Linked DNA regions of Homo sapiens. The protein of the gene in region 6 purifies or fractionates together with the protein of the main gene of each other region. This does not show direct contact. Each region holds a gene or a part of one and is shown on either strand. Other genes may lie near its edges. The genes, in order: KIAA0232, MAP1S, FBN2, EVA1C, MAP1B, DBF4B and NISCH.

Region 1 (3,500 bases), on a different chromosome or scaffold from region 6:
CAGAGTGAGACTCTGTCTCAAAAAAAAAAAACAAAAAAAAAAAAACCTAAGACTATCAAGACTACAACAGCAGATCACTGAAGCAAGCAAGGGCCCTGTATGATGCAATTACAGGCTCATAAAGCCAACCCTGTGCCTTTATAAACTTTATGAGCTTAATATTCTACATGCAATATAAAAAATCTGTGCTTAATTGTATGAAATTATCTCACAGGACTACTTCAGAAAACAAAACATCCGGCCTTAACAAAAGTAGTAAAACTAATATAGCCACCAAGAAAATTTTTAACATGACAAATGATTATTCAGAGTAGTTAGAAACTTGTTGGTCAATTTTTTTAAGGCTGCTGAGAGTAAGGTGGTTACTCATGAAAGTTCACTAAGACATATGTACAAAAATGTTTACTGTAGCACTGTGTTACAAATAACAAAAACCTGGAAACTCTTCATATCAACTAGTTAAATAAATTCAGGCACCTTCACACAAGGTAATACTAGGCATATTAAAAAAAGAACATGGTAAAGCAAATCTGTACCTAAAGTAGATCTGTGTATTAGTCTGTTTTTGCAATGCTGATAAAGACATACCCAAGACTGGGTAATTTAGAAAGGAAAGAGGTTTCATTGACTTACAGTTCCACGTGGCTGCAGAGGCCTCACAATCATGGCAGAAGGCAAGGAGGAGCAAAGTCACCTCTTACATGGATGGTGACAGTCAAAAGAGGAGAGATTATGCAGGGAAACTCCCCTTTTTAAAACCATCAAATCTCATGAGACGTATTCACTATCATGAGAACAGCATGAGAAAGACCTGTCCCCATGATTCAATCACCTCCCACCAGGTCCCTCCTACAACATGTGGGAATTCAAGATGAGATTTGGGTGGGGACACAGCCAACCCGTATCAATCTGTATGTCTGATATGGAAAGCATTCCAAGATACAAAGTTTAGTGTTTGTTTAAATAATGACACAAGAACACTCTTTACCATGATTCCATTTTTTAAAATTTATCTGTGGTCTTCAAGGCAAGATGAATACAGGATAGGAAGGGAGATGAAGAAAGAGACTTATTGTTCATGTTAAAAAGTCGGCTTGAGTCCAGGCATAGTGGTTTACGCCTGTAATCCCAGCATTTTGGGAGGCAGAGGCAGGAGCATCGCTTGAGTTCAGGAGTTCCAGAACAGCCTGGGTAACGTGGTAAAACCCCATCTCTACAAAAAATTTAAAAATTAGCTGGGTGTGGTGGTGCATAACTGTAGTCCCAGTTACTCAGGAAGCTGAGGTGGGAGGATCAATTGAGCCTGGGAGGTGGCCAAGGCTACAGTGAGCCATAATTGTGCCACTGCACTCTAGCCTGGGTGACAGAATGAGACCCTGTCTCAAAAAAAAAAAAAAAAAAAAAAAAAAAAGGCTTTATGACAGCTACTTGTATTCCAATGTTTTGGCAAATCATACAAAACACATACTTTAACAAGTTTAATTTAAACTTTAAAGTATATAAAAACAGGCCAGGCACGGTGGCTCATGCCTGTAATCCAACACTTTGGGAGGCCAAGGCGGGCGGACTGCCTGAGCTCAGGAGTTCGAGACCAGCCTGGGCAACATGGCAAAACCCCATCTCTACTAAAAATACAAAAGATTATCTGGGCATGGTGGCACACACCTGTAGTCCCAGGTACTCAGGAGGCCAAGGCAGGAGAATCGCTTGAACCCGGGAGGTGGAGGTTGCAGTAAGCCAAGATTGTACCACTGGACTCCAGCCTGGGTGACAGAGCAAGACTGCCTCAAAAAAAAAAAAAAAAAAAAAAAGTATATAAAAACAAGAAACTCCTTCAGATGGTACTGGCAAAAGATTAACAAAAGTAGAATCAGGACTCAATTATCTATGATGGTAACTAACCAAAGAAAGCAGTGGCAAGGAAAACAACCAAAGAAAGAATTAAAAACATGTCTACTCTATTTCAACTTTCTCTCCATTAAAATATTTAGGGAAAATGCTAGCAAGGAGCAACATACTAATCAGACATCTAATAAAGGGCTTGCCTGGCATGGTGGCTCATACCCACAGTCCCAGCACTTTGAGAGGCCAAGGCGGGAGGATCGCTTGAGGCCAGGAGTTTGATATCAGCCTGGGCAACATGGCAAAACCCTGTCTCTACATAAAAAGAATAAAAATTAGCCAGGAGTGGTAACATGAGCATGTAGTCCCAGCTGAGGCAGGAGGATCACTTGAGCCCAGGAGGTCCTGGCTGTAGTGAGCTGTGATCGTGCCACCGCACTCCAGCCTCGGTGACAGAGTGAGACTCTGCCTCAAAAAAAAAAAAAAAAAAAAGACCTTTTTTAATTAAAAAAAAAAAATTAAATAAAAAAAGGAAGGGCTTGAAAAAAATCTCCAAACTGGGTGAACAATTCTGAAATAATTACTGCTGGTTTTCCCTATCTTCTCCCTATTCAACCAGGGGCAACACTGAGGAAGAGACAGATATGGAGAAAGCCTGGCAACAGGTAAGCACTTAGGGAAGATGTCAGAAACAGAAATCTCAACAGTCATTCCAAATACCAAAGAGGAAGTTTCTACTGCTTAATGTATATTAACAAGATGTAAGATTAAAGTGAAAACATTCGCTTTCCTGAAAATAACATACTGTATAGTGTAAACTTTGACAATTTCTATTTTCCACTCTTTTTTTTTTCTTGAGACAGGGTCTCGCTCAGTCACCCAGGCTGGAGTCCAGTGGTGCAATCATGGCTCACTGCAGCCTTGATCTCCTGGGCTCAAGCGATCCTCCTGCCTCAGCCTCCTAAGTAGCTGGGACTACAGACATGTGCCACCACACCTGGCTAATTTTTAAAATTTTTTTGTAGAAACAGGGTTTCACCATGTTGCCCAGGCACATCTCAAACTCCTGGGCTCAAGTGATCCTCCCACCTCGCTTTCCCAAAGTGCTGGAATTATAGGCAAGCCAGCATGCCTGGCCAATTTTCCAGACTTTCTTAAGCCATATGCAAAAAACCTGCTCATCTACAGACAGGTTTGCCTGTCTTCAGAATAATTTAGGACCACCATCATGAATCTGTTTATGCAAAAGCCCTCTCCAACTCAGTCACAAAATTAATGAAAGAACGTAGATGCAAGTTGAAAATGAGATGACTGGCCAGGCACGGTGGCTCACACCTGTAATCCCAGCACTTTGGGAGGCCGAGGCAGGAAGATCATGAGGTCAGGAGTTCAAGACCAACCTGGCCAACATGGTGAAACCCCGTCTCTATTAAAAAATAAAAAATTAGCCGGGCATGGTGGCACGCACCTGTAATCCCAGCTACTGGGGAGTCTGAGGCAGGAGAATCACTTGAACCCACGAGACAGAGGTTGCAGTAAGCCAAGATCACGCCACTATACTCCAACCTGGGTGACAGAGTAAAACTCAGTCTCGGGAAAAAAAAAAAAAGAAAAGGCCGGGCATGGTGGCTCAGTCCTGTAATCCCAGCACTTTGGGA
Region 2 (3,500 bases), on a different chromosome or scaffold from region 6:
TCAGCAAGGCCTGCTTAAAATGTGAGCCTTTGGCTGGTCTCTGGGAATTTGGATCTTAGGCAGAGGGTTCCCACCATTCCCTGTCTGAGAGGGGCTCCCTGTGCCTGGACTGGACCACACACCTGATTTCTCCTTTTTGGGGAGTCTAGAGTGTGGGTGCCAGGCAGAAGATGCCTATGTAATGGCCCAATAGGAAACCTGGGCATGCTGTGTCTAATGAGCTTCCATGAGGGACACACTGTTACAACTTGCTACTGGAGAAATGAAGCCTGTGGTGTGCAGCCCCACTGGGAGAGGATTCTGGAAGCTTCTGCCTGGTTTCCTTTGGACTTCACCCTATGTGCCTTTTCTCTTTGCTGATTTTGCTCTGCTATGAGTGCAACCATAGGCCGGGTCCTCCTAACCAATCAGTTACATAAAATACGCTATTTAAATTTTCAACTGTTTCATTTTACTTATTGTGGCTTCTAGAAACCCACAGTTGGCATACGTGCTCACCTGTCCAGGCACCTCAGAATGGCAAGTGCTTCAACACTGAGGTCAGTTTCCATTTCACAGGAGAAACTGAGCCCCGGAGAGGTGGGCACGGCTGAGGTCACGAAGTAATTACGAACAGGAGGACTTGGCTGGGTGCAGTGGCTCATGCCTGTAATCCCAGCACTTTGGGAGGCCAAGGTGGGCAGATCACCTGAGGTCCGGAGTTCGAGACCAGCCTGGCCAACATGGTGAAACCCCAACTCTACTAAAAATACAAAAATTAGCCAGGCGTGGTGGCAGGCACCTGTAATCCCACCTACTCGGGAGGCTGAGACAGGAGAATTGTTTGAACCCGGGAGTCAGAGGTTGCAGTCAGCCAAGATCGTGCCATTGCATTCTTGCCTGGGCAACAAGAACGAAATTCTGTCTCAAAAAAAAAAAAAAGAACAGAACTGGCAGGGCACCGTGGCTCACGCCAGTCATCCCAACACTTTGGGAGGCTGAGGTGGGCACACAGCTTGAGGCCAGGAGTTTGAAATCAGCCCAGGCAACATAGTAAGACCCTATCTCTACCAAAAACTTTAAAATTAGGCAGGGGTAGTGGCGGTGCCAGTAGTCCCAGCTACTGGAGAGGCTGAGGTGGGAGGGTGGCTTGAGCCCCATTGTTCAAGGCTGCAATGAGCTGTGACCACACCACTGCACTCCAGCTCAGAGACAGAGTGAGACCATCTCTTTTAAAAAAACTGAAAATGTAAAAACAGGGGGACGAGCTATGCTCTCCAGCCTAAGCAGCTGCTAACCCAGCCCAGGGCCCCAGCTCCAGTACTCACCCGACGGGCCTCGAGTGGCAGTCTTGGGGGTTGAGGACTTTCTGGACAGGGGTGCCCGGCCTCCCTTCTCACTGGGCTCACTCCGGGCACTGAGTGGTCGGCTGGCACGGTCCCCACCAGCAAGCCCCTTGGTTTTGGCAGCAGCCACTGGAGTGGCTTTGGGGGCGGCAGCGCGTGAGTTGGGGCGGGCCAGGGGCTTCCGGGTGCGGCTGACGTTCTCCGTTTGCCGTGCTGTCTTGGGGGGCAGCATCTCGGGGTCCACCATGCAGATGCTGGATGGGTCAGGCAGTGGTGGGGGGACCTTGAGGGGGTCAGGCAAAGGGTCGTGGCGAGGGACTCCAAAGCCCTCTGTGTCTTCGTCTGAGTCTGCCGCACCGGGGGCCAGGGGCACGGGATCCGAGTCAGACAGGGTGGGCAGGGACTCGCTGACCGATGTGGGTGGCGTCTCCTCGGCCCCCAGCCCACCTGCCCGTTCCTGTGACCGGGCACTGCTGTCATTCGAGCTGCCGGGGGACGCAGGTGCCGGTGCCATTGGCACCGCCTTGCGATGCTCAAATTCACAGGGTGACACCAGGCACAGGTCCACATCGTGTGGGGAAGCCGAGCGCCGCGCCCGGGGGCCACGCAGCGGGAGGCTCAGCCCAGCCTCACTGGTGGGGGCGGATGGCGGCAGCACCTGCTCAAAGGACACCGACAGGGACTCGTCCACCTCGGTCGAGTGCGGGGAGCCCACCTCTGCGGGTAGTGAGGGCGTGGTCACCGTGGGTGTGGTCACTGTGGGTGAGGCGTCTGGCCCGGCCTCCCCGCCCCGCAGTGGGCTCAGCGACAGCCGCTCGCTGCCCTCTGCGGGGCTCCGGTGGGACTCAGGGGAGGGTGTGCGTGGCCTTGGGATTGAGCTGGCGGCCAAAGGCAGCTCCAGTGCCTTCTCCTCCCCGGCTGGGATCGGCCCCAGCTCCAGGCTGGGCGTGGCCACCAGCTGGGAGGCCGGAGAGCCGCAGGCTGCACTGGGGGGGCTGGCTTCTCCACATCGGAGGCTGGGCGGGCTGCGGGGTCCATTTGCCACCGGCGGGAAGCCAGAGTGGGACGTGCTGGGCGCTTTGCGGGGCTTGGGTGCCGCCTGGGCATTCGTCTTCTTGAGGTTGGGCACAGAAGAGGCTGCCCGGCGCACCTCCCGCGGCTGGGTCCGGGAGACACTCGGTTTGGGGTCTTTCTTCAACTCCCGGGGGGTCTTGGCTTCTTTCTCAGTCTTGCGTGGGGCCTCAGCCCGTGCTGGCTCCTTGCGGGCCACCCCAGGGCGCTCCTGGCCAGGTCTAGGGTGGGTGGCCAGGAGGCCCTCTCTCTTCGAGCTGTCCCGGGAGCCCACGCTCTCTTTGCTCTCGGCTCGCCCCGGCCCCTCCAGGTCCTGGGGCGTCACCACGGGCTCTCGCAGGAACCTCAAGTGCTGCAGGCGGACCAGGCCGTCCAGGAGGCAGGCGGGCGGGGTGCAACCGGGGAACAGCACGCGCACCACCTTCTCGCCGGGGCCGGCGGGGTGCCACACCAGCAGGGCGCACACAGAGGCCAGCGTGCGCTCGGCGCCGGCGGAGGGCGGGTGCAGCACATACATGTCCAGCCGGCCCACGCCCATCTTCTCGAAGAGCACGGTGGGTTTGGCTGGCACGGGGCCGCGGCTGAGTGGCAGAGGCGTGATGCCCAGCTGCGCCAGGAGGCTCAGCGCCAGCTCCGCCTCATCCTCGCCGCGCGCCAGCCGCGACGCGGCCTCGCAGGCGTTGAAGAACACGACCCCCAGGTTGGGGGAGATGAGCCTGCGCAGCCTGTCGTCCCAGGAGCCCCCACCAGCAGCCACCTCGGAGCGCTCCGCCAGTTTGCGCCGCAGCAGGCTGTTGAGGCCGGGGAGGCTGTCGGCGCCAGGGTGGGTCACCAGCACGGCATCCACGCGGTCCAGGTGCCGCACCAGCTTCCAGAAACTGGACTTGGGGTTTGAGCCACCGTTGACCAGCACAGTGAAGCCATTGACGGCGAAGAAGGCGGCATCCCCGAGGCCTCCAGGGAAGATGTAGCAGCAGGGCCGGCCCAGCCTGAGGAAGCCCCCGGAGGTCGGGGGCTCCAGCAGCTCGAAGGGGGACGGTGGCTCCAGAGACTCAGCCACGTACTCCAGGAATTCGCACAGGCCCTCAGAGTTGGGCAGCTGCG
Region 3 (3,500 bases), on a different chromosome or scaffold from region 6:
CTGAGGCCTGAGGGAAAGGCCCATCCTCACATTCTACAAAAGGCTCAATTAAGATTGGTTCATAGCTTTTTTTTTTTTCATATCAATGTAGCTAAGTTGTATGATGATAGACAAATTAATTTATGGCTCGTTGCCATAATTCACTGTATTTTTCCAGGAGGGTTGATTAAATATAAATTGGGAAAATGGGGTAGTGTGAAAACCTAAAATATTAAGTAAGTTATTAGTGAAAATATTGATAAGAATTACATTTTACATAGGAAAAATTGGTAAGCTAAAATGTGACCATTAACTTAATATTGATCAGTAATTTTTAAATGTTGGACTATATGGTATGAAGAAGTTCAAAGGTTATGCAGCTGCCATTCTTGCTTCCATCCCCCCACTTGATCACATGGTATTTCAATTCTTTTAGGGGCCTGTCTCACCACTAAACTGGGGGCTTCTGGAGACAAGGTCCACATCTTACTCATCATTACAGCCATAAGTTCTAGCTTACAGTAGAATCTCAATATTTTAATTGTGAAATGAGTGAATGCTTCTAACTGAACATTAAACATGTAGCGTAATTATTTCCATTATAACTTTTCTTTTGGAACATGTTTGATAAATGTATCTGGAAGAAATAGGATGTAATGAGGAGAACAACCAGCAGCTGCACTGCTTTAAGAATCTCTGAATAGTTACTAATTTGAAAGAAGCTACAAAGACAAAGGCTTTCCCAACCTGCATTCACTTTAAAGTTGGCATTAAAACTTAGCCTAAGTGACATAGGACAAAAGCAGGCTTTAAAGAAATTCCAATTGAAGAATGCGAATTGCAATAAAAAAAAAAAAAAAAAAATATATATATATATATATATATATATATATATATATATGTGCCAAGGAAATTATTTTTTGCCACTTTAGAATAATTTCTTTTGATGCTTTATATTTTTTAATATGGGGATTTTTTTCTTTTGAAGAAAGATGTATCTGTGTTATATAAATGCATATTTGGGATATTTTCTTTATTTCTAAGTTTTGCATAAATGGGGATTTAGAGAATCACCTATGCTTTGTTCAGTCATCTAAGTAATATAAATTCATTGAAAAAATAGATTTATTAATTAATAGATATTCTTGCCTACTCTAGATATTGATGAGTGTTTTGCACATCCTGGTGTGTGTGGGCCTGGGACCTGCTATAACACCCTGGGAAATTACACCTGCATTTGCCCACCTGAGTACATGCAGGTCAATGGAGGCCACAACTGCATGGGTAGGTAAAGAACTCTGAGATTAATTAGAGCACAGTTGTTGACTTCACACATAAAGCACTTACGTCTCAGAATTATTGTTTGGAAGTTTGGAAGTTCAGTCTTCGTGAATTGAGATATTTCAGAGTCTTGCAAGCTGCTGGCTTAGTATCAAGTTTTTGACCTTTGGGTATACATTTAAATTTTTAAAAGCATGAGTCTAATGTAGAAAATTTCCTCAAATGTTATATATTCTTAAATTTTTCATCTCCATTCATATAGTGTGAACATTAATTTACAAATAAAAGAACATTTAAATTTTAATGCTTTATTTTTTTAATTAAATAAATGATTTTGAGAGAAAAACAAATATGTATTAACATTGTCTCCCAAGAAAATTATAAGTGAAAACCTTTAAGGATAAAGGAGAGATGTTAATCTAAAAATGATTTATGTTTAAGGAGTTATTTTAAGATAGCTTCAAATGACTAAAAAGGGTTTCCGAGTTGTGTTCATCAGGAAAGCTTGATGTCTACAGCTGTGTGGGCTTCATTATAAACTACTCGTGGATACAAATGGCTAGTTTCTTTGTTTTTCTTTATATAGACATGAGAAAAAGCTTTTGCTACCGAAGCTATAATGGAACCACTTGTGAGAATGAGTTGCCTTTCAATGTGACAAAAAGGATGTGCTGCTGCACATATAATGTGGGCAAAGCCTGGAACAAACCTTGTGAACCATGCCCAACTCCAGGAACAGGTAAGCACACGGCTCGTGCATCTGCTGACTGCCACATCAGTGATACACGCATATATCTAACAGTATAGTCAAAGTCACTGCATGCTAAAACTAGAGATGCTCAGTTCCAAAAATTCCCAAGAGCATCATATGGTTCTGTTTCCCAAGTGATCCTCTTTGGGATTCAAACACTAACTTCTGAGACATTATGTTGGATAGGCTTGTGAATCCTGAAAATAAGATCCATTGCTGAAGAGTTAGAGTTGATAGCATTAGTCCATTTAAACTCATTATCTTAAACTGTGCTTGTCAATTATTGATTTATTCATCAAACAAATATTTCTTGAGTAACTACTGTATGTCACTGTGCTAGACATGGAAAGTATAATATTTGGAGAAAAACTAAATTCAATAAGGATTTTTTTTTAGTTCAGCCGTGGAAAATATGCAAAAAGTGTTTTTTATGAGCGAATTTTACATAAAAGCAACCCATTGTCATAATGTGCCTTTTACATCTTCTTCCTCAGACATCAGTGAAATTTTTAGGCAAAAAATAGAGCTTGTCTTCACTTGGTCATGTTTTTTTCACAAGACAGTTTCTTTTGAAAGAAAAAATGAAAGATAATAGAGATAAGAGCAAAAATGCTTGTCTTAAAATTGCTGTCCATCAGGCTCTCTTTTATGACCTGGAGAATGGCAACTTTTAATAACTATAGATACTAAGAGTTGAACCAGTAGGCCAAATAAGAAACAGTGATTATGCATTTGTTACCAAATATTACTTAGGGTATATGTATTTAAATGTTCCATTTAATGTATTGATGAAATTAAGGAGAGAAATGATGAAAAGCAACACATAGGCCTTTTTCAGTGGCTCCAATTCACTGGTCAAATGGATTTTCTTAGCCTTATCTTGCCATTATTATGTTCCATAAAATTAAATAGAAACATTCCTACAATTCTCAACTTTAAAACTCCATAGTTACAAATTTAAGATCATTGATTTGGGGAATTAAAATGGCACTTTCTTTGTGAGAAGAAGCGAAAGGCTTGGAGTTGAGAGACGTGTCTGTATTTAAATCAAAACTCTTAAGATACTTATTGTGGAACCTCCTGCAGAGTATGTATCCTTTCTGAAACTAATTTCTCATGTATAAAATAGGAATAATAAATAATTACAGTGACTAATTCATATGGGTGCAATGACAATTAGGGAGATTATACATATAAATTATAATTTGAAGATTTCCAGACAATTAGAAACCATTAAGTTGAGCATCTGTGGTCTTTCTATCTGTTCTCAATACTCGGTATATATTGATGGATGAAATATACAATATCCCTGACCTGATAGCACTTGGAATATAGTATGCAGTTTAAGTTTTATATAATACTGTTTTCAGGAGTTTTACTCACTTGTATAGCAGTGAGCGTCAGAAGCATTTTTCATCTTGCAAATTAGAATTCTTTTAAATTTCCATTGATTTGGTTAATTATGTGTAAGAATACTTCTTATAGTCCC
Region 4 (3,500 bases), on a different chromosome or scaffold from region 6:
TAATTCAGGACTGATGGTTGTTTTTTGTTTGTTTGTTTCTCAGAACCTGGAAAATATTATTTCGCTGTCTATGGCTCCCACTGTTTTTGTAGCAAAGACTTTATAGATAACATTTCCTTTACTATCTGATTGCTTTTAAGACTGTCACTTTGTCTTTAGTATTTTACAGTTTCAGTATGACACATTCAGGTATAAATTTATTTTATTTATCTTCCTTGGAATGCTTAACTCTGAATCTTTCATCAATCCTTAAAAATTAATCCTAGGACACCATCACTTTGAGTGTTGCCTCTCTCTCCTTTTCCCTACTTTCTTTTTCTGGAATACTGATCAGATGTATATTCAACCATCATTCCATCCTCCATGTCTTATGACTTTTCTTCCATGTTTTCCATATGTTTACCTGTTTTGCTTCATTCCGGATAATTTCTCCAGCTTTTTTTTCCACCTCACTGTTTCTCTCTTCAGCTATACCTAATCTGCTCTTCAACCTACCCATCAGGCTTTTCATGTCAATGAATATATTTTTCATGTTAGTAGATATCTTTGATTCTTTTACAAATACACCTGTTTTTTCTCGATAGCCTTTTGTTCCTTTCTCATGTTTTAGATTCCTTCTTAAATTTCTTTTTAGATTCCCTCTTTTTTTTTTTTTTTTTTTGAGACAGGGTCTTGCTCTGTTGCCCAGGCTGGAGTGCAGTGGCACAGTCTCAGCTCACTGCAACCTCCACCTCCCAGGTTCCAGTGATTCTCATGTCGCAGCCTTCCAACTAGCTGGGATTACAGGCACCCGCCACCACACCCAGCTAATTTTTGTATTTTTTAGTAGAGACAGGGCTTCGCCATGTTGGCCAGGCTGGTCTTGAACTCCTGACCTCAGGTGATCCACCCACGTCGGCCTCCCAAAGTGCTGGGATTACAGGCATGAGCCACCATGCCCAGACCTAGATTCTCTCTTTTATTACTTAAGAACCGTGTCATTGCTGCTGACTACTGCTCATATAATGTAATTTTGAATTGTGTGATCATAATCAGCAGCATTTTAGCTATAGGAATCTATAGATGGGCCTATATTGATGATATTCCCATGAAGGCAGTATCTGTGTGTTTGTTTTTGCCAGGTATCATGGGACAACTTTATTAGTTTCTCAACTTGGGTTTCCCAGTAAAGGTAATATGAATTCAAAACCCAGACTCTCCAAAAGGCAGAATTTTGATTACACCATCTCAAGAGACATTATTTTTTTCTCCAATCCTGAACCTAGGCTATGACAAGTTTCCTTGTCATCTTTCTTTACAAGAAGGCTGATTTGTTTTACATCCACCTTTTAATGAAGGCTTAGGTTTTCAAAGTCCTGGCTTTATATAGAGGTCTTTATTCTAATTCCTCACTATACAGTGGTCTCACTCCTTATCGCCTGCGCTCAGGCACCTGTTAAATCTTCGTTGTCAAGACCATCAAGCAACTCCAACGTAGCCATAGGGTTAGCACCAGCTATCATCCCTAGTTCTCTATTCTCTCTTCATTTTTGTTTCCTCACCACTCATTTATACATTAAAAGATTTTTCTTATATTTTATTCAGCATTTCTAGGTGTTTTGTTGGGGAAATAGTTTCAGAACACCAATTTCCAGAAACAAATTACAGACCCAATTCTATAATCAGTTCTTTGAGGCTAGATGGTACTATCTTTAAACAGGACAAGGAATGGACATTACTTATGTAAGTCCTGGGAAAGATTTGGCTCTAGGAAATGAAGAGATAAACATGACAGAAGTGCCACTGCTTTAAACTGCATGTAATTTATTTTGTTTTATTCCCTTGGTATTAGAAAGGCTACCTGGATTCAAATCCCCAAAAGTTACTAAATTGCTCTTTGCCTCAGTTTCTTGAACTTTTTATACTAGCATCTCCTTTATAGCTACAACTGGGAGGATTAAATGAGTTAACATGAAGTTCTTTGAACAGTGTCTGGCATAGAGTGCTTTATGTGCTTAATAAATTATTTTTAGGGCCAGGCACAGTGGCTCACTCCTGTAATCCCAGCACTTTGGGAGGCCAGGGCGGGTGGCTCTCTTGAGTCCAGGAGTTTGAGACCAGCCTGGGCAACATAGTGAGACCCTGTCTCTACAAAAAAAAAATGCCAAAAAAAATTAGCTAGGCCTGCTGGCATGTGACTATAGTCCCAACTACTAGGGAGTGCTGAGGTGGGAGGATGGCTTGAGCCCCAGAGGTTGAGGCTGCAGTGAGCCGTGATTGCACCACTGTATTCCAGCCTGGGTGACAGAGCAAGACCCTATCTCAAAAGTAAAAGATAATTTTTTTTCTTTTTTCTTGAGACAGGGTCTCGCTCTATTGCCCAGGCTGGAGTGTGGTGGCATGATCTTGGCTCACTGCAACCTCCGCTTCCCAGGCTCAAGCAATTCTCCTGCCTCAGCCTCCCGAGTGGCTGGGATTACAGGCGCCCACCACCATGCCTGGCTAATTTTTGTATTTTAAGTAGAGACAGGTTTCACCCTATGGGCCAGGCTGTAAAAATTTTTTAAAACCCTAAAAGTATTTTTAACTCACCAACTTTTTTACTCATACTGAGGGAAACCAAGTAAAGAAGTTACTGCCTCTGCTGAGCCGGTGGTGCACACATGGGAGCCAACTAAAGGGGTGGCAGAACGAGATACCCCAAGGGGCAAGGGGAAACTCAGAAGACACCAGAATCACTTGGTCAGCTGCCTTTCCAACCCAAGATTCTTTTTCCAGTACTAAAATCTTCATGACTGTAGGATTTAGGATTTATGTTATTATGAGAAACCATTTCCTTACAGAAGGATACAAATATACCAGCCTCATTAAAATAGTGACAAAGTATCATAAAACTTCAGACCTCCCCCCAGCCCCCACCCCCGCTCCCACCTTCTTGGTCCATTGCTCAGCTTCAGTGACAGTATGTTTTTTTGTTTGTTTGTTTGTTTTTGTTTTTTGTTTGTTTTTGTTTTTACAGGAACTCGCTCTGTCACCCAGGCTGAAGTGCAGAAGCACGATTTCGGCTCACTGCAACCTTCACCTCCTGGGTTCAAGTGATTCTCCTGCCTCAGTCTCCCGAGTAGCTGGGATTACAGGAGCATGCCACTATGCCCAGCTAATTTTTGTATTTTTAGTACAGATGGGGTTTCACCATTTTGGCCAGGCTGGTCTCAAACTCCTGACCTCAAATGATTCACCTGCCTCGGCCTCCCAAAGTGTTGGGATTACAGGCGTGAGCCACAGTGCCCGGCCATCAGTATGGATATTTAAAACCCAATAGGTACTGGGTTCAAATCCTGCTTCTAAATTTTATTAGCAGCTGTGGAGCTGGGGAGAGCAGTACGCAAGTCAGGCAATAGGGGTGGGTAACGAGGGAGCAATTGTTCTCTCATAGTACATTACCCTCAAAGTGGTGCCTCACTAAGAATTTTAAAGATATTAAGCCAACAGGATGGCTGTGAAGATCAGTGACCTCCAAA
Region 5 (3,500 bases), on a different chromosome or scaffold from region 6:
CTTGATGTTTGGCTCTGGATTTTTGAGATTTTCAGGTACATTGAGAAATACAACTCCTAAGTCAGGGGAGATGAGGTTTTTCATCCAGTCACTATTTGTGGTGGAGCCCTGGGACTGTTCTTCCTCGAGCTCTGCAATTTTCCGCTGTAACATGCTGTTTATTCCAGGCAAATTGTCATCCCCAATGTGGGTGAGCAGGATGGAGTCCACTCGGTCTAAGTGTCGGATGAGCTTCCAGAAGCAGGATTTTCTCTCTGATCCGCCATTGATGAGCATATTGAAACCATTCACTGCAAACAAGGCAGAATCGCCCCTCCCTCCTGGAAAAATATAACAGCAGGGCTTGGAGAGCTTCAGAAATCCACCCGATGTGGGAGGTTCCAAGATGTCAAAGGGAGATGGGACTTCCACTGATTCTGAGAGATACTCGGTAAACTCAGAAAGTCCTTCCATTTCTGGCAAGATAGAAGCTGAATTGAGTTTAATATTGATGAAGTCTTGGAGATTGTGTCTGTCAAGATTGGAGTTCTTCCAGTCCCCTTCTTCAGGACAGAACAGGGTTAAGCTGGCTTTGTTGGCAGGATGGGTGGTGCTTAGTAACTCCCCGATCTGGGTTTTAAAGAAAGAAAGAAAGAAAGAAAAGGTGTAAGTGATTATCATCACTGATCCATCATCTCCAGCTATAACTATGTGTTACAGGATCACAGGATGCACATAGGACCAGTTTCAGACATGCACTCTCATAGTGATGTTGGTTGCTTAAATGCTGAAATACTTCCCTACTGGAAGGTGAACAGCCTTTGTCCTGAGCCCCGCTGCTACTGGCTTCTACCTCAACCAGTACCCACTCGCCCTGGCACCTCCCCAACAACCCCTCCACCATCTATTCCTGCCCAGCAGGGGAATGCCAGTACTCTGCTCCAGTTCTAACACCAGTGACCACCTGGGCAACTGAGGATTGTGCTGCAGTGGTTATGAAACACTTTGAATATTACCCCTAGAATAAAGGCAAAGATGCCCTTTAAAAAAAAACGTTAAACTATCACAAGAGAAAGCTGTCTGGGTCATTTCACCACTAATAAAAAATATTTTCTTTTATTCCACTAGACTTGGCAAAAAAAAAAAAAAAAAAGGCCTGATGGATACCTTAAAGAAATTCAGATTAACAGGGCACTTGTTGTGGCCTCCTTTCAGGATCTGGCATGTAAAAAAGAAAAAACCTTGGTGGGTTTTTCCCCATAGGAGACAAGAAGTTACGGATTGCCTATTACTACAAAAAATTACTGGTTTCTGGCATCAGTGCACGCTGATTGAAACATGAGTGGGTCACCCAGCATATTCTCTGCAGATACAAATACTTTTTTATTAAAGCCATGACATTAAAGTGGTTTGGCCAAGTTCGTTCCCCATTTGCTCATGTTTAACTCCACAGTGAGCCACTCTGTTCTCTTACTGCTCCCATTCTTTTCAGGGCAAGTTGGGTGTGAGCAGCTAAGATCAAATGTGGCTGAAACATTTTTCAACACATTGTTTAGTACTTCCCAAGGATGTAAACATAGAAAAGCAAATCAGGACCAAAACAGAAATTGTGGTTTAATAAAAACACTACTTGTCTCTCTCACTCCATATTATGGCCATATATTTCATGGTCTTAGCCTAGCAAATTAGTGATGGAGAATCATGCCATCAACTCCAATATTCTTTCCGTCTCAGTAAAGCTCACAAATCAGCTCAGAGTTTCGACTGAAAAGGGCTCTGTATTCTGGATGACAAATGATCAAGGGGTAAAGCCAAGGTTTCATTTGGTCCAGGCATCCCTGAGCCAGCAGGTCTGAACTCTTACCTTCTAGTATTAGATTAGTTTCCTCTATCTCCTGACTATCAGCATTCTGAGGCTACTATTATGAATGTGTGTAAGAATAATTTATAGAATCTGAGTTTTCCTATATTCGACTGCAATATTGCAGTAAAATAGTCATTTTTGTTTTGTTAGCATATTAGTCCTAAGCATAACATTTTATGTAAAGGGCCGCAAAATAACAAAATAATAAAACTTTGCTGTTTTTCTGTGACTTCACAATTTTCTGTAAAAAGGATAAGAATCAACTCCTGTTTTTGGGAGCTAAGAAAAGTGAAAAAGCAAATGGTAATACCATCTTTGGGTAGAGGGGACAGGCATCTTTGCTCAAATGATTTGCTGGCCAAAGCAAACATAGGGCATCAAATATGGTTTTTTGTACAATAGTTAGCAGAGACTCTCATCACAATCACTATAGCACAATTAAAAGTCTCTAGATCCCAATTTTCACACAAAGCACATGCAAACTATTCATGTTTTATAATATGTTTTAGGGGGCAAATCTAGAATAACTGCTGTATCTTTAATAGTGAAACTTAAAAATTAAGTTTAGTTCATTTTAATTTTTGAAATTCCACCCTAGCTGAGAGGTGTGGCAGCCAAGGGTATAATCCAGCTGTGAGTAGGGGGCATTCAATCACTGGCTCTTTTTATGTAAAGTATGTAATTACCAGGTTGAAGCAGAAGGTAGAAAGACTTAAGGAATATCTTCCTACTTTCCGTCTTTTCACCTCTATCCAGAGAATTTCTATGAAATGCAGGAAATGACCCCAAAACAAAACAAGATTGCACAGAATTCTGAGAAGTCAGAGGTCATGAAAGATAGCCAAGAGACACTGGTGAATGAACAACCGTGATGTACAAGGCAAAGCAGAAAAGAAAGCCAGCATTGCTTTGACAGGTTTCTTTCCAGAGAAGGAAAATCTGGTCCCTCTGAAGAAACAGCAGCACATTCTGAATGATGAGACAAGAATGCAGAGACAGGGCTGGACAGAGCCCTCAGTCATAAAACAGACAGATGGAATTGGGCAGAGGGAGGAGGAGGAAGAACAACTCCTACATCCTTGGAACTACACAACAGAATGAAGCCCGTGTTTTCCCCCACAGCCTCTTTCCAGACCTGTGGGCCAACAAGCACAGTAGAGAGTGCCTCAAGGGCAAAGACAGGGTCTTAAGAGTGGCCAGCCCACGGCAGCACCTGACCAAGCTTATTCAATGAATAGATGAGAACCATAAGGAGGATCCAACAATGTTAGCAGTGGCAAGGAAGCTTGTGACTAGTTCTTAGACTTGGAAACTGAGGCTTCTTCTGAACAAATTGGGAAATCATCACCATGATAAATGGTAACTATTATAACCCACTACTCTAAACATTTCTGATAGCAGGAAATATATCTTCTGTATCTTTGTATCTTAGTTATCTTTGTTTCCTCAATACATAATCAGGCTCAGTAGATGTTTGTTGATCTGTGTGCCAAACTTGGCCAGTTCAACACATGTTATCTTCCTGGAGTGGGTACTTCAGATGTAACCACACTGAGTGCTACCCTGGTTCTTACAAAGTTGGATGACAGATGCAACAAGGAGGAATATGCTTTGGGACAAAGATAATCTTTTTTGTTAATTACTTTTTCTGATTAAA
Region 6 (3,050 bases):
GGAGCTGGGGCAGCAGGAGTCCTGGCCCGGCTTCCTGGCCCTCCACAGGCCCTTGCCTCTCTGCAGAGCCGCGGGTTAGCTGTTGGTGTGCTCCACCCCCAACCCCGGCCTCCTTTCTCACGAGCATGTGGCCGCTCCTGCTTTCCAAAATGACTGTGTTTGTCCCCTCCCCCAGCCCCCCACGCTCCCGCACACAGATCCTCAGGAACATATGAAGCAGAGGAGGGGCTTGGGCTGCACCACTCACAGAGCTCCCTCCCCCAGGCACTTAGTTGGGGCCCAGCACTGACCTTTCCCCTGAGCCCAGGATGTGGCCAGAGCCCCCTCTGGGACCCCTCTCGCCCCTTCTCTGCCTCCTCAGCTTGAGCTGCCTGCCCGAAGTTCGGCTGTTCCGGGGCCAGTGTGTCACCTGCCAACTTCCACATCACCCTCCTCCCTCGCTCCCTCCTCTCCTTCCCCAAGGACCTCCCCCCATTTCTGGCAGCCAAGCCATTAATCTGGAGACAGAAATGGGTTTGCTATCGATTCTCTGGCCACTTTTTCTTTCATTACAATTTGTACCGTGATTCTTCTCACCCTTCTCTGCGTCCGTGCATTTAAAGAGTTGTCTCTTTAAATGTTGAAGCTTCCGGAAGCCTGATGCTATTCTGTGTCTCCTTTCAAAGGAAGAAGGGGGGGCCCAGCTATGGGTGAGGACTCAAGTTATTAGTTTGGAAATAGAGCAACTATGTGTACAGCCCACCTTAGAGGTCATGTTACCCCCTTCCTGTTAAATTTTACAATTAATTTTGGTTCAGGAAATGTAAATAAATTTGTTAATTACAAATAGCAAAGAGATGGGGCTGGAATGCCATATGTCGGTCCTTGATCTGCCCTCCAGTGACCCAAGGCAGGGCTGCGGGCCAGCAGCGATGGACAGAATCACTAGATGGTGTGATGGGACCTCCTGCAAGTCACACATGTGTGAGTGCCACAACCCTCCTGCCGGCCTTGCCCAAGGGCTCCAGGGAGCAGGGCTGCCTCTGTCCCTGCCCAGCCTCCTTTACCCAGTCTCATCTGGTCACTTCCTTGGCTCTGCTGCCTGGGGAGTGGTCGCCTGCAGAGGACATGCCCCTCCATCCCTCCCAAGAAAACTCCTTTGCCCCGGCGGACATTCCTGTTAAGGGCCCACTCCTCTTCCCTGAAGCCAGACCGTGGCTTATGTCTGCACGCTGCTGGGTTCGTCCCTTTCCTTTTGTGACATGGGGTTGCCTCATTCCCCATGACACCACCCCTCTGCATGAGGAAGTTTCCCCTTGCCCCTGTCTCAGACTTGGATACCTTTACCTGCTGCTCACACAAAGCCTGTGGTGCCGGGTTCGGGTGCCCTCATTGTCAACTGCAGGACCCATTCCCCGAACCTCACATCCGTGTACCCTTGCCTTCCCCTCCTATCTCAATGATCATGACCTTGGACATCTCTGCCAGGCCAAACCCCAAGGCTGGAACACTCCTCAGCCATTTCTCCATTGCGGCTTCCTGGCTGTAGACTCAGGTTAGAGGTGAACCCAGAACACCTGAGACTTGACCCAGGATGGATGGGTGCTGCTTGATGTGAATGAGGTCCCGCAGTGGCTCCTTGGCGTGAGCACTGCTCAGACTCCTTTCCACTCCAGCCCCCTTTCCACATCGCACCAGATGACTTTTACCCAGACCCAGTGGGCATTGCCTTATCTTGCAGTCAGTCCCTTTTCAACATGTTGCCGTTTCTTTCTGAAGAGGTGTCCTCCCTCCACAAGTCACACTGTCTGTCCCTGGCCCTCCAGCCCACCTCGCCAACCACTCTTGTTGGTTTCCTTCTCAGACTTGCCACCTTTCCCCTCTGCCCCAAAATGCCATGCTCCTCTCCTGGAAAACACTTGAGTTGATTCAGTAAATCGACTTCAAATACTTGAAGGCTCCCACCTTCTGTTCTCTGGCTCCTTCCTGCGGTCTATACCTACCGCCTCCTCTTCACCTCCTTCCCTTCCACACTTCCTTCCTGGGTAGCTCTGCCTGAAGCATTCCACTAAGATCATCTATTCCAAGGTCATGGACAGGCTACTGGTGACCAAAGTTGGTTCCTTTTCTCCTTTCTTTCCTCCTTGAAGCCTGGCTCCCTTGGTCGCAGCAGCCCCTCAGTGGCCTGGTTCTCCTGTCCCCCTGCCCTTCCTCACCATTGCCCATTCCCTCGTTCGTTCATTCAGCACAGGCCTTGCCGTCTGCCCTGAGTCAGCTCCGAGACACCTGAAGAGCCCTCCAGCCCTAACTACTTTACTCAGACTAGGTCCCCAGGCCTTTGTTCTTGCCTCTTCTCGCTGAGCCTTTCACTTCTCGGCAGATGTGACCGATTGGTAGCTCCACCCCAACTCCCTTCTGCTGGGTGGAATGCAGGAGCTAGCTGCCTCCAACTCACTGTGACCTCAGAAAAATGCCTTTATTACTCGGGCCTCAGTTTCCTCGTCTTTAAGTAAGGGGCTTGGATGAGATGATTTCAGGACCCTTTCCAATAATAAAATACTGTGACTGCCAGCAAATCTTTTATGTCTTTCCCTATCCTGCCACCAGCAGGAGTGCTGTATACCCGAGCACTCCTTCTCATCCTGGATCTTGGCTCCCCTTCCCAGGGGAGTTTCAGCTGTGCCCAGCTCAAACTGTTTTCTTGATCTAAAAAATGGAGGTAATCTAGGCTGGGCACGGTGGCTCACGCCTGTAATCCCTGCACTTTGGGAGGCTGAGGCGGGCGGATCATTTGAGGTCAGGAGTTCGAGACCAGCCTGGCCAACATAGTGAAACCCCATCTCTACTAAAAATACAAAAGTTAGCCGGGCATGCTGGCATGCCTGTAATCCCAGCTACTCGGGAGGCTGAGGCAGGAGAATCACTTGAACCTGGGAGGCAGAGGTTGCAGTGAGCCGAGATTGTGCCACTGCACTCCAGCCTGGGCAACAGGGCGAGACTGTCTCGAAAATAAATAAATAAATAAATAAATACGAAAAATGGAGATAATCATAGTTGCTACCTCGCTAGGA
Region 7 (3,482 bases), on a different chromosome or scaffold from region 6:
TTCGCCATGTTGGACAGTTACATTCTTAAAGGGCTGCTGAAGATCGTATGGACATGGTAGCCCATAAATCCCAAAATGTGTACTCTGACCCTTTACAGAAGCTTACTAACTCCCACTCTACATGTGAGGGCTGCGGTGGCCAAGAAGAGCTGGAATTTAAGTGTGAAGGTCCTAAGACCTGCCCCAGCCCACTTCCCTGCCCCGGAGGCCACCAGGGGTGACAAGTAGATTCATGCCCTGGAGTGTTCCTTCTCTCCGGGGCTTATGGCAGCAACTGAATGACTTAGAAGTCCATGGGAGTGCTTCTGTTGTGGGAACTCGTGTGGTCTGGGCATAGCTGTGCCAGGCACCTATGGTCCAAGCCCCTAGAAGCATAGACTCTGACCAAACTGGCGACCCAGCCTTCCAGCAGGCAGCACTGGCTCCCACCAGGGCCCTCATCCTGGGAACTGACTTGGCCATGTGGGAGGCTTGGGAGACCCATGGGTTGGTTTCTCAGGGTCAGGGTGTAGCAGTGGGCTCCAGATGTGGCAGGTGGGAGGTGGGAGGGGCCCCTCCCAGCATGCCACTGACCTGGCCTCTCCCTGCACAGCCCAGAACATGCCGAGCCGGAGGTCCAGGTGGTGCCGGGGTCTGGCCAGATCATCTTCCTGCCCTTCACCTGCATTGGCTACACGGCCACCAATCAGGACTTCATCCAGCGCCTGAGCACACTGATCCGGCAGGCCATCGAGCGGCAGCTGCCTGCCTGGATCGAGGCTGCCAACCAGCGGGAGGAGGGCCAGGGTGAACAGGGCGAGGAGGAGGATGAGGAGGAGGAAGAAGAGGAGGACGTGGCTGAGAACCGCTACTTTGAAATGGGGCCCCCAGACGTGGAGGAGGAGGAGGGAGGAGGCCAGGGGGAGGAAGAGGAGGAGGAAGAGGAGGATGAAGAGGCCGAGGAGGAGCGCCTGGCTCTGGAATGGGCCCTGGGCGCGGACGAGGACTTCCTGCTGGAGCACATCCGCATCCTCAAGGTGCTGTGGTGCTTCCTGATCCATGTGCAGGGCAGTATCCGCCAGTTCGCCGCCTGCCTTGTGCTCACCGACTTCGGCATCGCAGTCTTCGAGATCCCGCACCAGGAGTCTCGGGGCAGCAGCCAGCACATCCTCTCCTCCCTGCGCTTTGTCTTTTGCTTCCCGCATGGCGACCTCACCGAGTTTGGCTTCCTCATGCCGGAGCTGTGTCTGGTGCTCAAGGTACGGCACAGTGAGAACACGCTCTTCATTATCTCGGACGCCGCCAACCTGCACGAGTTCCACGCGGACCTGCGCTCATGCTTTGCACCCCAGCACATGGCCATGCTGTGTAGCCCCATCCTCTACGGCAGCCACACCAGCCTGCAGGAGTTCCTGCGCCAGCTGCTCACCTTCTACAAGGTGGCTGGCGGCTGCCAGGAGCGCAGCCAGGGCTGCTTCCCCGTCTACCTGGTCTACAGTGACAAGCGCATGGTGCAGACGGCCGCCGGGGACTACTCAGGCAACATCGAGTGGGCCAGCTGCACACTCTGTTCAGCCGTGCGGCGCTCCTGCTGCGCGCCCTCTGAGGCCGTCAAGTCCGCCGCCATCCCCTACTGGCTGTTGCTCACGCCCCAGCACCTCAACGTCATCAAGGCCGACTTCAACCCCATGCCCAACCGTGGCACCCACAACTGTCGCAACCGCAACAGCTTCAAGCTCAGCCGTGTGCCGCTCTCCACCGTGCTGCTGGACCCCACACGCAGCTGTACCCAGCCTCGGGGCGCCTTTGCTGATGGCCACGTGCTAGAGCTGCTCGTGGGGTACCGCTTTGTCACTGCCATCTTCGTGCTGCCCCACGAGAAGTTCCACTTCCTGCGCGTCTACAACCAGCTGCGGGCCTCGCTGCAGGACCTGAAGACTGTGGTCATCGCCAAGACCCCCGGGACGGGAGGCAGCCCCCAGGGCTCCTTTGCGGATGGCCAGCCTGCCGAGCGCAGGGCCAGGTGAGATCAAGCACAGCTCTCAGGGGCCCCGGGGGCATGGGTCTGGCATGTGTGTGATCTCAGCATCTGCGGCTAGTGTGGGCTGGGAGTTGCTGCGAGAGCTGGGCCCCCTCCCCCCCTGCCCCTCGCCCCCCCCGGGCCTCCCTCTACATCACCACCCCAGGTTTGGTGCCAGGCTGCTCCTTATCTCAGTGCTGTAGAAGAAGCCCAGGAAAGCTGTCCTCTCACAAAATGGGTTGGCCCAGCCTCTTGCCACCCATGAAGGGCAGGCCAAGGGGGCTGCCCCACCTTTGCCTGCCCAGTGGGAGAGCAACAGGCTGCAGCACACCGAGGCCAGGAGAGCTGTCACCCTGGCTGCTGTGCTCCTCTGGGCCCAAGCATGGCCTCTGGGCACTACCTCCTCCAGGGTCACAGTCCCACGGATGGCTCTGTGGGCCAGGATCTGCCTTAGGCTTCACCCACCTCAACATCTTGCTGTGTTGTTCAGGCTGGTCTCAAACTTTGGGCTCAAACAATCCTCCGCCTCAGCCTCCCAAAGTGCTGGGATTACAGACATGAGCCACCGTGCCCGGCCGTGCTGTTCTGTTCTCCAATAGAGAAGCTGGTGGAAGTCCCCAGTAACCCAGAGGTGATGTGTGATGCACACAGTCTCCTCACTCTGAAGCTGCACATGCGATGTGAATCTTCATTTGGGGTCCGCTGTTAATATGGTGTTTTTCGGGGGATACAGCAATGACCAGCGTCCCCAGGAGGTCCCAGCAGAGGCTCTGGCCCCGGCCCCAGCGGAAGTCCCAGCTCCAGCCCCTGCAGCAGCCTCAGCCTCAGGCCCAGCGAAGACTCCGGCCCCAGCAGAGGCCTCAACTTCAGCTTTGGTCCCAGAGGAGACGCCAGTGGAAGCTCCAGCCCCACCCCCAGCCGAGGCCCCTGCCCAGTACCCGAGTGAGCACCTCATCCAGGCCACCTCGGAGGAGAATCAGATCCCCTCGCACTTGCCTGCCTGCCCGTCGCTCCGGCACGTCGCCAGCCTGCGGGGCAGCGCCATCATCGAGCTCTTCCACAGCAGCATTGCTGAGGTAGCGGCCCGGGTGTGGGTGCCAGCTATGGCACGGCCAGTCCTGAGGGCGAGGCCAAGCTTGGCTTCAGGTCAGCCTCAGGTCCCTGGACTTCCCTGATGTCGGAGTCCTCAGCTGAGCTGCTCACAGCTTTGAGGACCTGGGCAGTGAGGTCCTGAGTTGCCCTCCCCTGGCCATTTGTGCTGTGTCACCACCTCCTGTGCCACTTCCAGCCCCAGGTAGACCTCCCACCAACAGCCATCTCCCACCCCTCTCTTCCTCTCTGCCTTGAAGCATACGGATTCATTGGTGAGCCAAGAGGGGCTTCCCATGTCTCCTTGTGGAAGCTGTGGGCATGTCCCTGGTATGTGCAGGTTGCTAGGGTGGTGGAGCTGACAGGAGGCCCCCCGTCTTCAGGTTGAAAACGA

The links.
Region 1: the proteins of DBF4B (region 6) and KIAA0232 purify together in Homo sapiens (co-immunoprecipitation; one large-scale study listed by IntAct). This does not show direct contact.
Region 2: the proteins of DBF4B (region 6) and MAP1S purify together in Homo sapiens (affinity purification with mass spectrometry; 3 studies listed by BioGRID and IntAct, with this or other methods). This does not show direct contact.
Region 3: the proteins of DBF4B (region 6) and FBN2 purify together in Homo sapiens (co-immunoprecipitation; one large-scale study listed by IntAct). This does not show direct contact.
Region 4: the proteins of DBF4B (region 6) and EVA1C purify together in Homo sapiens (affinity purification with mass spectrometry; 3 studies listed by BioGRID and IntAct, with this or other methods). This does not show direct contact.
Region 5: the proteins of DBF4B (region 6) and MAP1B purify together in Homo sapiens (affinity purification with mass spectrometry; 3 studies listed by BioGRID and IntAct, with this or other methods). This does not show direct contact.
Region 7: the proteins of DBF4B (region 6) and NISCH purify together in Homo sapiens (co-immunoprecipitation; one large-scale study listed by IntAct). This does not show direct contact.

What each region holds. Positions count from the first base shown.
Region 1 is NC_000004.12:6,789,227-6,792,726, reverse strand, and holds part of KIAA0232 (uncharacterized protein KIAA0232), read right to left. Parts: intron 1-3,500.
Region 2 is NC_000019.10:17,725,980-17,729,479, reverse strand, and holds part of MAP1S (microtubule-associated protein 1S), read right to left. Parts: coding exon 1,308-3,500; intron 1-1,307. UniProt on the Homo sapiens protein: Microtubule-associated protein that mediates aggregation of mitochondria resulting in cell death and genomic destruction (MAGD). Plays a role in anchoring the microtubule organizing center to the centrosomes. Binds to DNA. Plays a role in apoptosis.
Region 3 is NC_000005.10:128,307,746-128,311,245, reverse strand, and holds part of FBN2 (fibrillin-2 precursor), read left to right. Parts: intron 1-1,137; coding exon 1,138-1,263; intron 1,264-1,846; coding exon 1,847-1,999; intron 2,000-3,500.
Region 4 is NC_000021.9:32,419,206-32,422,705, reverse strand, and holds part of EVA1C (protein eva-1 homolog C isoform 1 precursor), read right to left. Parts: intron 2,884-3,500; exon of another isoform or gene 1-2,883. UniProt on the Homo sapiens protein: Binds heparin.
Region 5 is NC_000005.10:72,190,975-72,194,474, reverse strand, and holds part of MAP1B (microtubule-associated protein 1B), read right to left. Parts: intron 610-3,500; coding exon 1-609. UniProt on the Homo sapiens protein: Facilitates tyrosination of alpha-tubulin in neuronal microtubules. Phosphorylated MAP1B is required for proper microtubule dynamics and plays a role in the cytoskeletal changes that accompany neuronal differentiation and neurite extension.
Region 6 is NC_000017.11:44,749,715-44,752,764, forward strand, and holds the end of DBF4B (protein DBF4 homolog B), read left to right. Parts: exon of another isoform or gene 1-833; intron 834-880; coding exon 881-1,539; 3' UTR 1,540-2,225; coding exon of another isoform or gene 2,226-2,249; 3' UTR 2,250-2,550; downstream 2,551-3,050. UniProt on the Homo sapiens protein: Regulatory subunit for CDC7 which activates its kinase activity thereby playing a central role in DNA replication and cell proliferation. Required for progression of S and M phases.
Region 7 is NC_000003.12:52,486,604-52,490,085, forward strand, and holds part of NISCH (nischarin), read left to right. Parts: intron 1-592; coding exon 593-2,002; intron 2,003-2,732; coding exon 2,733-3,075; intron 3,076-3,471; coding exon 3,472-3,482. UniProt on the Homo sapiens protein: Acts either as the functional imidazoline-1 receptor (I1R) candidate or as a membrane-associated mediator of the I1R signaling.